2 separate regions of the Homo sapiens genome follow, and region 1 is linked to region 2. Evidence: fine-mapped expression QTL. Tissue or cell type: sun-exposed skin. Region 2 holds a variant in brackets; the other region holds the start of a gene. All regions are shown on one strand. Distances are from middle to middle.

Region 1 (8,104 bases), 22 kb after region 2:
GCCGAGGTGGGTGGATCAGTTGAGGTCAGGAGTTCGAGACCAGCCTGGCCAACATGGCGAAACCCTGTCTCTATTAAAAATACAAAAAATTCATCCAGGTGTGGTGGCACATGCCTGTAATCCTAGCTGCTCTGGAGGCTGAGGCAGGAGAATCCCTTGAACCCGGGAGGCAGAGGTTGCAGTGAGCCAAGGTTGTGCCACTGCACTCCAGAGCCTGAGTGACAGAGTGAGACTCTGTCTCAGAAAAAAAAAAAAAAAAAAAAAAGAAGAAAGGAGAGAGAGAGAAAGAAAGAGGACTTTCCCTCTGCCAGGTGCCTTTAGTTTTCAATTAGGAGAATGTGGGTAAAATAAAGCAAACATTTTGGTTGTAAATATTGTTAGACATGCGACTAGGTTACTGGAAGAAGTAAGTCATCAGGCCACCTTCACCCAGCTGTATTAAGGACAGGATTAATTACTATCATTTTTTACCTGGATTTTCCTTAGAGTAGAAGAATGGACAAGAGACACCTTTAGAGAGTCTTTCCATACAGTTTCCACTTATTTCACCCATGGAATCTCCATAAACTTCATTTTTCCCCTTCTAAAGCTTCCCAAAATTCAGGAGGTAAGCTTGTATTCAGACAACCAAAAATACTGCAAAGTTTGCTTACAAGGAGTCCGATGTCCCCAACGCCTATCCCATGTCTAGCAGGTGGTTCAATTCACGTGGGCTGAACTGCACTGGACTTCTCTGCTGGCTGTCAGGTCTCGCTCATCTTCTGGAGAGAATATTCTGCAACCCCCAGGCTCTTTAACAACACCACTGGTTCCTTATAATAGCAGGTATGTGGGGGTTGGGCATTGGTGAGTGTTCAGACAATATCTTCAAGGGACATGCTATCTACTATTTTTTGGCTCCCGTTTACAAGTAAAGGAAAGAGTTCGAAAGTGGCATTTCCCCATGTAGGACGTTTCCTAGTCAGCTACTCACTTAGGCGTGGAACTGCTCGTTTTCCACGCAGTTTGACCACCCCAGTGATATCCCACTCCAACTTCACGGGAAGGAGGTTGAAGTCTGTTATCTGTTATCATCAATGACTGGGGGCGCCTTTTAAAAAATTTAGCTTGGGCAGTTGAGATGCAACTTTTATCCCACTGGGGGCACTGAGGAAGGGCTTAGTTATGGATGCTGTCTCTTGTACCCTCTTCTTCTATAACATGATAAACAGTGTCTGGACCTCTAGTTTTAGAGAGTTGGGCAAGAAAAAGGGGGAAGGTCATTTTGACTCCTCCTAAAATGTAGCTGAGGCTTGTCGCTTAGAACCATCAAAACTGCAGGCCAGGAGCTCCTGCCCAGGTACTCCATCACTGCTCTCAACTCCAGTCCAGAGCAAGAAAATCCATTTGGAATTTTAAGGGTTAAATATCAGACTCTAAAAGTTTGATGCAGGCCAGGCACGGTGGCTCACACCTGTAATCTCAACACTTTGGGAGGATCACGTCAGACCATGAGTTTGAGACCAGCCTGGGCAACATAGTGAAACCCCCATTTCTACAAAAAAAATTTTTTTAAAAATTAGCTGCATGTGGTGGTACTTGCTTGCCTGTAGTCCCAGCTACTCCAGAGGCTGAGGCACGAGGATTGCTTAACCCCAGGAGCTCAAGGCTGCAGTGAGCTACGATTGTGCCACCGCACTCCGGACTGGGTGACAGAGTGAGACTCTGCGTCTACAAAAAAAAGTTTGATGAAAGGGGTGACGGATGGATGAAACTCTACCTGCTGGGCACCTAGTCTGTGCCTTCTGTGGGCAGTGGCCAAGGTCCCCAAAGATGGGGCTGCCTCAACCAGGAGATATGAGAGGTTCCTGATACTGCTTGGGAGAGGAGGCTAGTATGTCTCTCGGTAACAGTCCCTTATAGCAACCTACATGGAGAAAAAACAAAAACAAGAAAAGCCACAAAAAGAAAAAAAATCAGGCCCATTTGGACAAAGCAGAAAATTGACTAGGGTACAGTCCAGGAAGAATGTCAGCAGCAATCACTGTCTGCTAATCCCAGCCCAGTTTTAATCAGCGTCTCCCTGGCACTCTGGAGTATTTATTCTATGAAAGATTTAAGCCAGTTTGTTTTTAAGAAGAACCATCCTAATCCCCTCTGTTTAACTGTTTAACTTAATCTTGGTTACCAAGTTACTTAAGGAGCAGAGTGGAAGAATTGCTCCCCCTCCTACAAACGTGATTAACCTGTTTTAGCTTATTTTTCCTAAAGTCTCCAGGGCAGTGCCAGCTGGGGGAAGGGGACAAGCCACAGACAGGAGGAAGAGAACAGCGGAGGGAAGGGAAGGGAAGCAGGTGACCACCAGGAGGGTGTGACAGGCAAGCTGGATGCTGAGCCAGAGCTGAGGTTCCTCTGTTCTCACAAACCAGGTGAAGAATGAGGTCACGGGCTAGAGTTTGGGGGCTCTTATCTCTTTTTTATCGTGTCACTTTTTGTCTGTCCTTCAAGAGGACAGAGAAGAAAACACAGAAGACACAAATAATTCAAGGCCACGTGCATGGGAGCAGGGCAGCCTGCTAAGTTCTGCTTTCATTCCTTCCCTAAACATTCATTCCCTGAAGTTGATAGGCGCCTTCGGGATTAGAGCTTCAACTGTGGTCATCGAAGCCCACCAGGACACGACCACAGACCACGGATTGGCTCCACGGTTCTCTTCCTCCCCCAACCTTCTCCTCAGTGCCACTATTGGGAGCTCTTTCTGTGTCTCCAGGGGCTCTCAGATAACCAGGGTCCCAGGTGAACTCCCGACAAACACAGGTGCACCATGTCGTTTGCATGGGTGTCGCTGGCCCCCGCTGCTGGGGCAGGCTGGCCTGCTGCTTGGTGCAACACCCATCAGTCACTTCTGCCAAGGCCCCTACTCTGTCCTGACCCCGGTGGGGGCCATGGGGTTGGGGGAATGGGACTGGGATAGGAGATGAACATGACAGCTTTTAGGAAGAAGATATCTTGGTTTCCTCTGGAAAAATCCTTCCATTTCTTTAAACCCACCACAAGCCACTTTGAGGGACTGCCTGAGCGCCCCATGTTCCCCTACCGACCTCCCCTCTTTGCCCTCCCACTGACTCCCAGACCCCCGGTGGGCGCAGGTCGGTACTCACGCTGCTGGGGTGGAGGACGGGCAGAGGCAGCAGCAGGAGCGGGACGCAGACGACCAGCAGCAGCTTCCGGACTCGGAGCAGGCCCTGCAGCAGGCCCATCGCGCCTCTGTCCTCTCCAGCTCGTCCTTGGACCCCGCTCTGCCGGCGAAAGGCTTCCTGCCTGGGCACTGCTCTCTATCCAGAAAGACTTCTTAAACCTTTCTTGGCTTCCGAGAGTCCTCCTTCGTCTTGGGGGCAGAACGGGAGGGCAGTTATACCCTCGCTGTTTCTACAAGAGGCTGGGCTCCTGGCCTCCTGCTTTAGGTGGGATTGATGAGCATCGTTTTGTGACCAGCAAAAAGGAACTGGGAAAGGATGATAAACGGGGGCATAGTGGGCCTCCTCTCGGCTTGATTAGTAATAGAGTAACTTCATTCTAGGTGTCAGCAGAAACCCCCTTAATCCTTTAAGCCACACCTTTGCTGCTGCTGCTCGGCCTTGAAGAAATCATTTAAAAGCTTAAAAACATTAAAAACGCTCAGAGCACATTGTGCTCTCCATCAGTTTTCCTCCCTCGGATGACCTATTTTGGGGAGTACCTGTTTCATCTCCCACCTGGGCTCGCTGTTGGTAAGACTCTAGTAGCCCCTTTCCTTAAAACAAGCACCTGAGCTTGTCAGAGTTGCATGCGGACTTCAGGTGGGGCTGCTGGTCGCTCCCAGGACGTGGTACCTTAACTCTGTTCACATGTCTTTCCCTCAAATTGGTTCCCTACTTATAATTTGCCTTGAGCCTGGGCCTGCAAAGCAGAAAAGAAAAGTCCCCAAGACATTCCTTTTTATCAAAGGACAAAACTTGCTGGAGGCCCACCTTTAACTTTCATCCACCAATGGGAAGCCGGGACAGAGACAGTAGCTCCGCCCACTTCTCAAAGCCAATCAGCAAATTGAAAAGAATGAGTCAATTTCTCTCCCCGCGGCCGCTCTTGATTGGTCACAGCGGGGGCCTGCTGATTCCGCAGAACCTAGGCAGCCTGCTAAGCTTATTTTTCAGTTTCTCAAACTTCCTAGGGCTGGAGTGATGACCATCATCGTAAACATAATCTCACGTACCCAAGCACAGCTTTATTGTTTCGGATCATAGGACACAGAGCTTTCGCTGGGAGGGCCACCTGCTGATCTAGACCTTGGGAAGGGAATGTGCCTGGTGGCAGGGAGAAAATGCAACATTACTTCTGGAGAATTTGCCTCAGAGTGTACAAAGTTAAGCCTTTCAGACCTCCCTGCTGGCAAAGATCGTTTGCCTCAGCACCGAGGGGGGAATATAAAGGGTCTAGGCCAGCAGAGGGTATGAGCTCGTGAGAAAGACCCCAGATCTTTTGGGAAGTATAGCTGCCTCCCTGGCAAAGTCTAGATGCCAGTCTCATGCCCAGATGTCAGTGGTCTCTCTGGCTAAAGTAGGTGCTCAAATGCTTCTCTCTGGGGCTCTCCAAAAAGGAAACCGAAGACCTTCTTTGGCTGGTACGAAAGGAGGAGGTGGGAGGGCAGGGAAGAAGTTGACAAGTTCAGGGACAAGGTCTTAGCTGCAGTTGAACTCTGGAATTTCTCCTGTTTACAGATTGGAAGAAGTTGTTAGCTTCTTTTCTCAGAACGGACATGTGGATTTGGGGCAAGGAAGAAAAGCAAAAGCAAAAGCCCAAACATTCTGTAAGTAGTGGTTCTTGGCAACATTACCTTACCTTGATCTGGGAGATGCTGAGCAGAGTCAAAGGGTTATAAAACCCATGTTGTCTTGAATTCACAGAACACAGGAATGGCGTTCGAAGATCTGCAACTATACTACTTGGAAATGATCCCCAGGCTAAAGTGACCAGGGAAGTGACCCAAAAAACAAATTCTTCTTGACTTTTAAGGCAGGTGCAACTGTGGACAGCTGAGGTCCCCTTTGAAATTATCTTGCCATCGTAGGATGGGCTAGGATGACTCAACTCTTTAAATGCATGTTAAAGACTGGCTACTGTATTTACTACATTCTGGCCTCATTTTTTTTTGGTTATGATTTTGAAACTCAGAATGAACAATACCACGTGTGTGATGTTTTGGTCGCAAACATTAAAGACAGCGAATAATTATAAGCAGCTGTGGAAGTCAACATCCACTGTTAAACCCATGAACCATTCCAAATTCCTCGGTGAGATACTCTGAGATAACAAAGATTCCAGTGAGCAACTCAATCATGACATCTTTATTATACCATAGATGAATATTTGTTAAATAAAAATAGGTACAGCAAGTGTACAATAAGACCAGTAGTTCTCCTTCAGAACTCTACCCATTTTTCAGAGGAAGGAAACACTTTTCCAGAATACAATGCTCAAGAAATGTAAGCCAGATCCCGCTTGTATGAGGTATCTTAAGTAGTCAGACTCTCAAAAACAGAAAGCAGAATAATGGTGCCAAGAGCTGGGGCAGGCAGGGGGAAGGGGAAAAGAGGAGTTGTTCGGTGGGTATAGAACTTCAGAATTACAAGATGAGAAAGTTCCGGGGGTCTGTTTCACAACATGCATGGAGTTAACACTGCTGTACCATATGCTTAAAAATGGTTAAGATGGTACATTTTACCTGATGTGTTTTTTACCACAATAAAAAAAATAAGATTGAAATGGATTAGGAAAGTAAGGGGTGTTGTAAAAAGTCATTTAACAAGCATTTGATTTTAGACCATTGGACCTGCAGAAATACTTTGATTTGTTAGATTCAAGGTGAGGTGACAGAGCAATGAAGTCTGCAGCAGTTAAATGTCTGTTGATGTCTCTTGAGTGACATTGGAGATAGCTGTGAGGATGCCAACGATGGAGGAAACTTAGAAAGTTTTTAGATCCTGGGCCAGGCACGGTGGCTCACGCCTGTAATCCTAGCATTTTGGGAGGCTGAGGCAGGTGGACCACTTGAGGTCAGGAGTTTGAGACCAGCCTGGCCAACATGGTGAAACCCCATCTCTGCTAAAAATACAAAAAAATTAGCAGGGCATGGTGACGTGTGCCTGTGGTCCCAGCTACTTGGGAGGCTGAGGTGGGAGAATCGTTTGAACACTGTAGGCGGAGGTGCCACTGCACTCCAGCCTGGGTGACAGAGCGAGACTGTCCCAAAAACAAACAAACAAAAACAAAACAAAAAAACCCACAAAGTTTTTAGATCCTAAAATTTGTCAGCAGAAATGGTTACATAAGTCATGGGCAAGTTTCCACCACAAACATCACACTCCCATATTATTCTAATAGTAATTATAACCAAATGTGACCCCTTCGTGACTGTAGTTGTATAGAGTGTGGCACTAATGAGGCAAAATAGGAGACCCTGTTTGTCTGTCTAGTCTACATTTCTACTACTCCTTGGGCAAAGAATAGGGTTTTTTGGCTGCTGGTGGTGATCATAATATTTGATTCTGCATGTCAGTGAAATCATTGTCATAAAACTCTCTGTGGGTAAACAATGATCTGCATTCAGATTAAAATAGTTTTTAAGACTCTAGTTACTGAAAATGAGTCTTCATTTGTCTTTAAAAAGGTCATGTCCTTCTTTTTTCTATTTTTTTTTCAGTCATTGATTGCCACAAAAATTCAAGCCCCAATTTGTGTTTAATTTTTTTGTTGCTGGGTGAATGTTCCTGGGAACCATCTTCCCATTCATGGATTTCTTACTACTGGGAGCAGCCATCTACATAACATGGTGGTCAGGGACTACAAGGGTGGGCCTTTCCATCTGATGATTCTGAGTACAAGAAAGCTTTCAGATCCATTGTCAAGGGAGTGGAGCCTCGGGGCGGGATACAAGACTGACTATCAGGGTATTGCACAGTGTCTAGGGACTGAGGCCATTGCTAATCCACTCCCCATCTGACATCTAGGAAAAGTACAAACTGTGAAGATAGGCTACCATGTTTATCTGCCTCTGGCCGATCCCAACGCTGTCTGTACACTGACTTGTGTTTTACTTAGACAATGATACCCAGAGAAGACTGACAGACAGTGAGTGTTAGAGTGTGGGTCAGCAGAGATAGAGCAAAAGTCAAGCAGAAGAGTCTTGGAGATGCATCAAAAAACAGATACAGAGATATTTGGAATTGGGCCCAAATATACAGCAGCAGAGATACCAACTAAAATAAAAGAAAGAAAGACAGAGACAAGCAGAGTGACCATGTCAGAGAGAATATGTACATTTAGAAAAAGAAAGATTGAACAAAAAAAGCATATATCAGAATCTGCATTTGGAGGAGGTAAAAGAGCAGAATGGTCAGGGAATGAGAAAGAGAAACTGAGACTTACTAATCTTCTGAGCCTGAGAATATCAGGATGCAAAGCTGTGTTTTTCTCTGATGATGAATACCTTCTTCCAGTGTCCTAGTATTTCTCCAAAAAGATCATGCGGCTAGCACTGCTATGCAAAGCTTATTTGCTCAAAGATTTTGAAGGAGTCCAGACCTCATCATTATCAAATGACAACTGTTAAATACCCATTTCAGAATCAAATTTAGCCCAATAAATCCTCACTCATTCAAAGATCAGACTTGTTGCAGCTTTTGCTTGCTGAGCTCAGCTGTAAACTTAGGAGAAGACAGAAAGATCTCTGAGCTAATGAGGAATCCTTATTAGGACCCAGACGCTCGACCCCTAGCAGAGGACTTCATCTATTAACTCTTATTTAACATAGAATTATAACAAACCTGGCTATCGTAGTTTGTAGGCAATGGCCAGCTAAGAAAGAACAGACTGTGAAGGGCAAGTTACATTGGTAACAAAGAAAAATATGCTCTAATAGCCTGACAGTGAGGGAGGCAGCAGGGAAACTCAGAACTGAACACAGAATGAGCAGTCTGGGACCTCTCAGGGTTGGTACAAACAGTTGAGCTGACTTCTTAGATCCAGGTGCTCTCCTTGTGGCATCTCACAGTTAAAGGATTGTAGGAACTTCATAGGTAGAAGTCTT
Region 2 (8,104 bases):
CTCACTGAAAGGAACTCTAAGGTGGATCTGTAGCTGTTGAAAATCTGGTTCTGAATCTTGGGTTTCCATGAAGAAGTGCTGAGGGATTTTCAAGTGATTCCAAAGCACAGAAAAACCCCAAGGCCATACCTCGTTGTGCATCAGAGTGGTGAGGTCTGCGTTGGACCTGCTGGAACCAAGCAGAGGACACAGGAGCCACGTCAGTGAGGCCGACTCTTGGGAGGGGAGGTCCCCCTGCATCAGGCGTTTGGTGTAAGGGACTTAAACTCTCTGGATTCCAGTTTTCTAGTCTCCAGAGAAGACTAATCTCTCCCTTGTCTTCCTTGCCTTCTGAGATGCTGTAAGGATTAGTGGGGCCAGGGGCCTGCTTCCTTCTGAGGGCAGGGGCAGCACTTTCCTTTGATATTAACAATCGTCCTAACAGCAGATGTGGAGTGGATATTAGATACAGAGTGCACATATATGGGCTTTAACCCCCAGACATTGTTAATCCTCATCACAGATCTATGGTCCTGGCATTCATACCTCCATTTACACCAGTACTTAGCACGGGGATGCTAAGTGGCAGAGGAGGGTAGGAGTCCAGGAGTCTGTCTCTCTGGAAAGCCTATGCCCCCTGACCATGTTCTCACTGGCTGACTCTCATGTTCTCACTGGCTGACTCTCATGTTCTCACTGACTGACTCTGGGAAGACCACTATCTAGAAAGGGGAACTTGTGATATGCGTATCGGAGGTGACAGGAGCAGGGAGGGCCTGGATTGTACTCAGGGAAAGTCAAGGGAGAGGGAGAGGGTGGCGGAGGGGGAGGACTTCTGATCAGCAAGTACACCTCAGGGGGTGAGTCTCTCCCACCCCTGCTGGTCCCCAACCTTTGCCTTGAGGACAGAAGAAGATGAGAACTTAGCCATCAGTGTAACTGACACACTGAGTGATCAGTGAATGTTTCCAGTTTGTCTTAGTTGCGAGGACAGTGGGAGCCACCAGCTCAGCCACTGTGAAGACAGAGAGCGTATTGGGCACACACATGCGGGATGTGGGTCCTGCGGCCATGGTCCCTCTTCAGGCTCTGTCAGGGAAGGATAAGAAGCTGACAGGCGTGCAGAGGGAAGTGTTCTTTGGAGTGAGTTCTTAGCCTGGGAGGAGAATGTGCTGTGATGTTTCCCTTCCCTTCTTCCCAAACTGGGTGAGGAGGGTAGGCGAGGATCCTCAGGTAGCATGGGAGGTGGTGGCCGCAAGAGTGCTGTCTGCACACCCAGCAAATGACCCAGTTCCCACCAGCACAAAAGATGCTTAGAGTTCTAGGGACAACTCAGGCTTTTCTTTTGGAGTTTGGGGATACATTTTTGTGTGGAAAAGAGCAAAGGCAAGAAGCCAGTAGGGTGATGCCAGAGAGGCCACAGGGAGGAGAAAAGGCCACAGTGAGGATGGCCTTTTCCTGGGTCACCTGGGACAGGCCTGCCCAGAGGCAGAGGCAGCCCCAATACAGGGGTTGTGGGGGAGTTAACCACCAGAGCACAGGCCCTGGAGGGTGGCGTGAGTGTTAATCCCAGAGCAAGGCCCTGCCATCAGGCCTGAGGCCCTGCAGAGGGCGCCATAATGGGATGCTCCAAAGACCCTGAAGGCAGTTGCCCCACAGATGAAAGAGCCAGGGACTGAAATCTCAGAGAGGGCACCAACCCCAGACCTCAATAGCCCCCATCCAGACCCTTCTCACCCATTTATCTTTCCTGTACCCTAGAGCTGCTGTCCTAAGCCCAGAAAAGTCAGAAGCAGCAGAGTGAGGGTGCGGTTAGGGGAGGAGGAGAAGAGGGAGGTGGAGGAAGACAGAAAGAAGCTCAACTCCCTCCCCCGACTTACTTTCACCTTCTTTCTTCTGCAGGCCTAGGGTGAGGGGTGGGTGGGTATGGGAGAAGCTTTGGCTGAGAAGTTGAAGTTTTGATTTGAATTTGGACTAGTCTCCCAAATGTCTGAACATGAGATTGTTATAATACCTGAAAGGAACCAGGAGAGCTACGGGATTTGCCTGGGATATCATCAAGGGTGATGTCATCAAGAAATCCAATATGCTATGATTGAAGATAGTGGTGGAGAAAAATAAAGCGATTTCCTGATGGCACCCTTCCACGTCTGTCCCACTGTGAACGCTGATTTCACCCAATGTGCGTTCTCCTTTTTTACAACAAGGGCAAATGACAGAGCTGAGCTGTATTACAAATCCAGCTTTTAAATGTGGACTATTCATTGTGGCATGCCTGTGGGCCACATTTTGAAATAGAATCTCCAAATGGAATCAGCTGTTAATAGAGCTTCCTCCAGGAATGTCTGAGGCTGCTTCTCCTTTTCCAGCTCTGCTTCCCATCATCACAAGGCCCTCTCACCTCCTGTCCCCTCATCCCCTACCTGTCACCTAAGTTTTCTTTGCCATATCTAACAAGACCAAATCTACCAAGACCTTATCTAATATCTAGAAAATATTTCATGATTCTCCAAGAATCTGCAGTGGCATCGAGATGTGAACGGTTTTCCGTTAACAAATTAAACATACTATTTTCCTAAAAGGGACATGAATTTAGAAGAGATTCTGCATGGTGGCTGTGTGGACAGTTCATATATCCACTGAGATTCAGTGTGGCCTTTTTATTTCTTCCTCATCACTGCAACACTGTGGTTAAGGGAGTGACTCTCCAGGTCCTGACAGGTCACTCCTAGGTATGGAGAGGAAATGGGGGAGGTTGGGCGGGGTGGGGGGGTGGTGTGGCAAGGTGGTGAGCTTGGGTGGTACATCTCAAAGAGCTGTTTATGGGTCTAGGTCCCCTCTTTTCTGACCTCCCCTATGGACTCTGAGAGGCGCTGTCTGGGAGAGGGCAGTCATACTCACTCTTCATTGACAAAGATGAGTTCCAGAGAAGGTTGGCTGTTCTTTACATCCAGACCTATGAGTAGCAAAGAAAAGCAGTATGTGAGAGGTGGAGGCTGGGGCTGACCCTGTGGGTTGGAGCATAGCTCAAGGGCTTAGGGCGGAGGTGGGCCATATGGAGTGGGTGACATTTCTCCTTCCCTTTGCTCTGTAAATAGAATGGGGCTCATGGATGCAGACTGGCCCCAGGGTTTTGCAGTGATCCTTGAGCATTTGGGGGCAAAGAGCAGTGTGTACCCTTGAGCATTTGGGGGAAAAGAGCCCAGAAGTGAAGGAGGAAGGAAGAGCCAGAACAGGGAGTTCAGGGAAGCTTCAGAGTCCAAGAGCTGGGATGGGAAAGAGGAGAGAGGGAAGAGGAAGGGGAATGTGGGGGCATGGCTGAGGGGGTCCTGGGGTGGGCACAAAGTTGGGCAGTCTCCCTAGAGGAGCCAGGCAGGAGGACCCCAGGGGAGGTTGGAGGAGCAAAGGAGAGATGAACTCCAGCAAACTGTACTGATGGGTTCGGCCTCTTCGGTGTTGGAGTTGCCCGCCACGAGCTGCTCGTCCTCAGCACTGACCAGCTCCTGCAGCACGGCCTCCACGATGGGCATCACCATGGCGGTGGTGGAGGTGTTGGACAGCCACATGGACAGCAACGTGGTACAGCACATGAAGCAGAGCAGCAGCCTGGAAGGCAGGGAGGGTTGGGGCAGAGCGTCCACGGAACACACATCCCTGCGGCTCCACAGTGGGCCTCCTACCAACCTGCTGGGGCTGGTCTAGACAGCTGTGGCTGGAAAGGCAGGCATTTGTCCTGCAGGGTGCCATTCAGCTCTGTACTCCCAATGCTTGGCACAGCGTAAGTATTAAAGCAATACTTCTTGAATGAATGAATCACACTTCATGGACTAGCGGCCTTAGCCAGAAAAAAGTCCTTAGTGAAGCAAAGAATAGCTCTGGTAGTAGGGCCACAGGGTGTAGACTTACCATTGTTTTTCTGTCTCCACGGACATTGGCTGGAGCTTGGCGGTGATGTGTGTTTGTGTGTGGAAGGCAATACTTTGTTTGCCCTCGCAGCCAGCAATTCTGTGAGCGCCACGGCACTCCTTGCTTTGCCGCCAAGTCACCATAGATATCAGTGACCCAATAGAGATGAATGTTTGGAGCTCACAGTTCCACCCACTACCTGTCAACATGCTGAAGGC[A/G]TAGCCCCCAAAGTCACAGAAGTGTCCCGTGTCACTGTGTGCACTTTTCCAGCTGACATCTTAAAGCGTCAACACTTGGAGAAAAACACTAACAAGGTTAACCCTCTAATTATTTCTCTTTGGCTTTGAGAACGTTGTGCAATGTGTGCCTGTACAGACATGTCCTAGTTTCCATAAGATAAGCCAACATAAAGACTACTGTGTTTATTATTTTAGGTGGAATCACTGACTTTGCACAACTTGGGGACAGTACGTTTATCATGTGGACTCCATTGGCTGACAGCGACTTGACTTTGCCAATTCTGTACCTACACGGGTAACTGCCTCTGGGGGTGGCAACTTGCTGACTGATGTAAATAGGGAGGAGTGGAAATGTGAGAGGATAAAAATTCTTGCAGATAGTACACAGAGATTTTAAAGAGCCACAGAGTCTCCATATGATGTGACGAAATGCCACTGTGTGCCTGGGAGGTTGAGTGTAGGGGCAAGATTATTACTGAGTTAGGGGGTGGATTAAGCTGTAGTTATCAGACCTGTTTGACAATCTGGGAGACAGGAACATGCTTTTAAGCATAACCTATAGTCATCTAAATGACTCATACTGAGAACCAATACTATATTATTTATTTATACTCGTGTTGACTCCCATAGGAGTCAGGGCAGCTTACATAAAATACAGCAAGAAAGTTGTAAACTAGAAGGAGGTGAGCAGGATATTCCAAAAGGGAAGGTACAGGCAGGGGAATCCAAATGGAACATTGCTGAAGCTAACACAAAACTCAACCTTGACACCGTAACACATTCCCCGAGGGTGGGACTCCCTCCCGCATCACAGTCAAATGCAGTGTCTCTAACTGGGTCTGTGGTCTGAACTGATGACAAAAACTCAGGGTGGATGGGAGGAAACATTCCCGTCTCCTTCAGTGACAAAGGAGAAGACAGCCACTTCCGGTCCAGCCTGTTCCCTGATACACAGGAAACAGGTTGGGAAACAATTTCTCTTGGTCCATCCTGTTTTACCTGATGGGCCCCTATATGTTGTAAGCTGCTGCCCTTGCAGCCTAGGTCAATGGGTAAATTCTTTGGATAATGATAGCAAGGTCACAGGTTTAAATCTCTACTCCATGATCACAGGCCCTCTCCCTGGACGGGTCCTATGGCTCTGGTGTCAGCCCGACCCTTTGGTAAAAAAACAGCTGAAGTGGACATCCCGCAGTGACCTGAGACCACTGTCCTGGTGGCACACTGGGAGCTAGAAGGATGCCCTATGTCCTGGCATCCCAAATAAGACTTACATGCCCGGCTTGGCTCCGGCCATCAAGACCATGCGCAGAGCAATGCGCTTATGCAGGTTCCACTTCTCCACGGCAGCCGCCACGCAGATGACCCCCACCAGCAGCAGCGTGGTGTTCTTGAAGTACTCCGCCGCCACCTGTAGGGAGGCCAGGCATGTCAGTCACCCTCCCGGACCAAAGACCCAGGGCCCAGCACCAGCTGGGAGAATGGGCCATACCCAATAAAACCTGTTCTCAATCAAAGAGGCTGGCGAAGGGGAGGCAGGGGGGTGAGGATTATTGAAATAGCCGCCCATCCTAGAGTCACATCTACTGAGCGTTCATTGTGGGCAGGCACTGTGCTAAGTACTTGACAGATTATTTCATTCAATCTGGCCCATAACTCTATAGGATAGATGTTCTTCTCCACTTTGGAAAACATAAAACCACTGTATTTAAATATGATGTGAATATGATTTTAAAGAATAAACACATATAATTTTATATTGATCTTTTAAAATAACCCTAGGTTTCTCCCCAAACCTAATTTTTAATGTTTTTAGAAAATATTAGAAAATTATTTTCATTTCATTTCTATTAGAAAATTAATACATACTCAGTATGGAAAACTTCAAAATATAAAAAAAGTTAAAGACAAAATTACCCTTAATCATGCTACTGTAAATACTTATAGTTTCTTCCATTTTTCCTATACCTATATAGATAAATGCATTTATACAGTATGTATACTTTTATATCTTGCCTTTTTTTCATTTAACATCATATCCTCATTATTGTTTTTCTTTGAGACAGAGTCTTGCTCAATTTTTTTTTTTTTTTTTTTTTTTTTTTTGTGAGATGGAGTCTCGCTCTGTCGCCCAGGCTGGAGTGCAGTGGTGCGATCTCGGCTCACTGCAAACTCCGCTTCCTGGGTTCACGCCATTCTCCTGCCTCAGCCTCCCGAGTAGCTGGGACCACAGGTGCCTGCCACCATGCCTGGCTAATTTTTTTTGTATTTTTAGTAGAGATGGGGTTTCACTGTGTTAGCCAGGATGGTCTCAATCTCCTGACCTCGTGATCCTCCTACCTCGGCCTCCCAAATTGCGGGGATCAGAAGCATGAGCCAGCGCACCCGGCCTTAATTTTAAAAATTTAAATAATTCCCAATAATTCTCAAGTTCCAATGAATTCCAAAAATGAAAATAGTACAAGGAATACCTATACACTCTTTTTTTTTTTCCCTGAACCATTTGAGGGTAAGTTACACACATTTTGGCTGGTCCTTTACCCCTAAATACTTCAGTGTATATTTTCCTTTCTTTCTTTTTTTTTTAAAAAAAAATTTGAGACAGGGTCTCACTCTGTCACCCAGGCTGGAGTGCAGTGGCATGATCACAGCTCACTGCAGCCTCAACCTCCCAGGCTCAGGGTATATTTTCTACGAGTAGGGATTTTCTCTTCCTTAGTGGCCACAGTACCAGTTATAAACTCCTTTCTACTTTTTAATTTAATGATGGGGAAGTTGAGACATAGGGCAGTTAAAAAGATGTTTCGCATGTTTGAGGTTCATGGACCAAATCTTTGTTGATTCTCTCACTTGGAACATTCTCTCTTTCCATCTCTGCCTGTACATTCCAATCAGACTTTGAAGCCCAGTTCAGGCCTGGCATCCTCTAGAAAAAACCTTTCTTGTGGCCCTAGCCTCTGATTCCAGAATATTCCTCCTGGGCACCATTAATTCCGCACACCACAGAGCACTTGGAGCAATGCTTGAATGATTGCTTCCTGATTGTACTGTTGTTTGTTTATTTTTGTATGTGTACTTCTCTTGTCTCTCAACTAAATTTTTCGGCTGTGAATGGTTCCCTTCTATATATCTTAACACCTAGTAGAATAATATGCAAAAGTAGATGCTCAATAAATATTTGTCACATACATGAGAATTGCTTCCAACTGGAGGAACCATACAGAAATTGAGAGGAAAAGCTATAGAAAAGTCTAACTTCTAATTGAAAAACCCTCTTAAAGTGAGAAAACAAGAACATTTTTAACTGCAGCAAAAATAAAAATTCAACAGGAAAGGAAATACATAGTAAAATACATAGCATTTGAAATAATATGTACATGATCATACTAATTTTGATTATTGAATTAACAAAAATTGTGATTGAGCATATTGGGAGGATGGTAGAAGGCGAAGTGGGGGATGTAAAAGAAAAAATCTTCCCGGGAGGCAGAGCTTGCAGTAAGCCGAGATCGCGCCACTGCACTCCAGCCTGGGCGACAGAGCGAGACTACGTCTCAAAAAAGAAAACAAAAAACAAAAAGAAAAAATCTTCATCTGCTATAACAAGAAGTCAACTGATAGCCGCTTAAAGTGAGAACTCAAGGACTAATATAAGAATATCATATGGGAATGGAGCTTAATGACAGAAGAAGCTGTTAACAAAGTTACAAGTTATTGACTCTGAGGGTGGGGTGGGACTTGGTAGGGGGGGAAGTGGGAGGGATGAGGAAAGAGACTGCTGACTTTTCATTATAAGCGTTCAGTATTAAAGTATTTGATTTTTAAACTTTGTGCACGAAACACTTTGATAACATCAAAACCAAAATAAAGGCAGGCTGCTCCATCTCTCCTTTCTCTCTTTTGCCCTATGGACATTTCATTGCATCTGGTTGATGAGGGTTGTGTAGGAGAAGGGACATCTGCCCTCACTGTGACCATTT

Evidence for each region. PIP is the estimated chance that this variant, and not a neighbour inherited with it, causes the effect.
Region 1: it holds the start of SLC13A4, and the variant in region 2 is fine-mapped to the expression of SLC13A4 in sun-exposed skin (GTEx, PIP above 0.99). The same link has a PIP of 0.9 or more in unexposed skin.

The regions. Positions count from the first base shown.
Region 1 is chr7:135,724,258-135,732,361 of GRCh38, forward strand. SLC13A4 (solute carrier family 13 member 4) reads right to left here and starts at 3,929. Exons shown (of 16, transcript NM_001318192.2): 1 at 3,141-3,929. The coding sequence starts at 3,239. It overlaps FAM180A (family with sequence similarity 180 member A), which reads right to left. Exons shown (of 4, transcript NM_205855.4): 4 at 5,335-6,024.
Region 2 is chr7:135,702,716-135,710,819 of GRCh38, forward strand. SLC13A4 (solute carrier family 13 member 4) reads right to left here. Exons shown (of 16, transcript NM_001318192.2): 3 at 5,399-5,535; 4 at 3,413-3,585; 5 at 2,881-2,935; 6 at 130-169. LOC105375521 (a long non-coding RNA gene) reads left to right here. Exons shown (of 5, transcript XR_928021.3): 4 at 1-3,757; 5 at 4,320-5,881. Among named protein-coding and RNA genes, the nearest start is that of SLC13A4, 21 kb to the right of the region's middle. RefSeq lists an enhancer at 1,386-1,680. The variant A/G (reference allele first, on the strand shown) is at 4,104.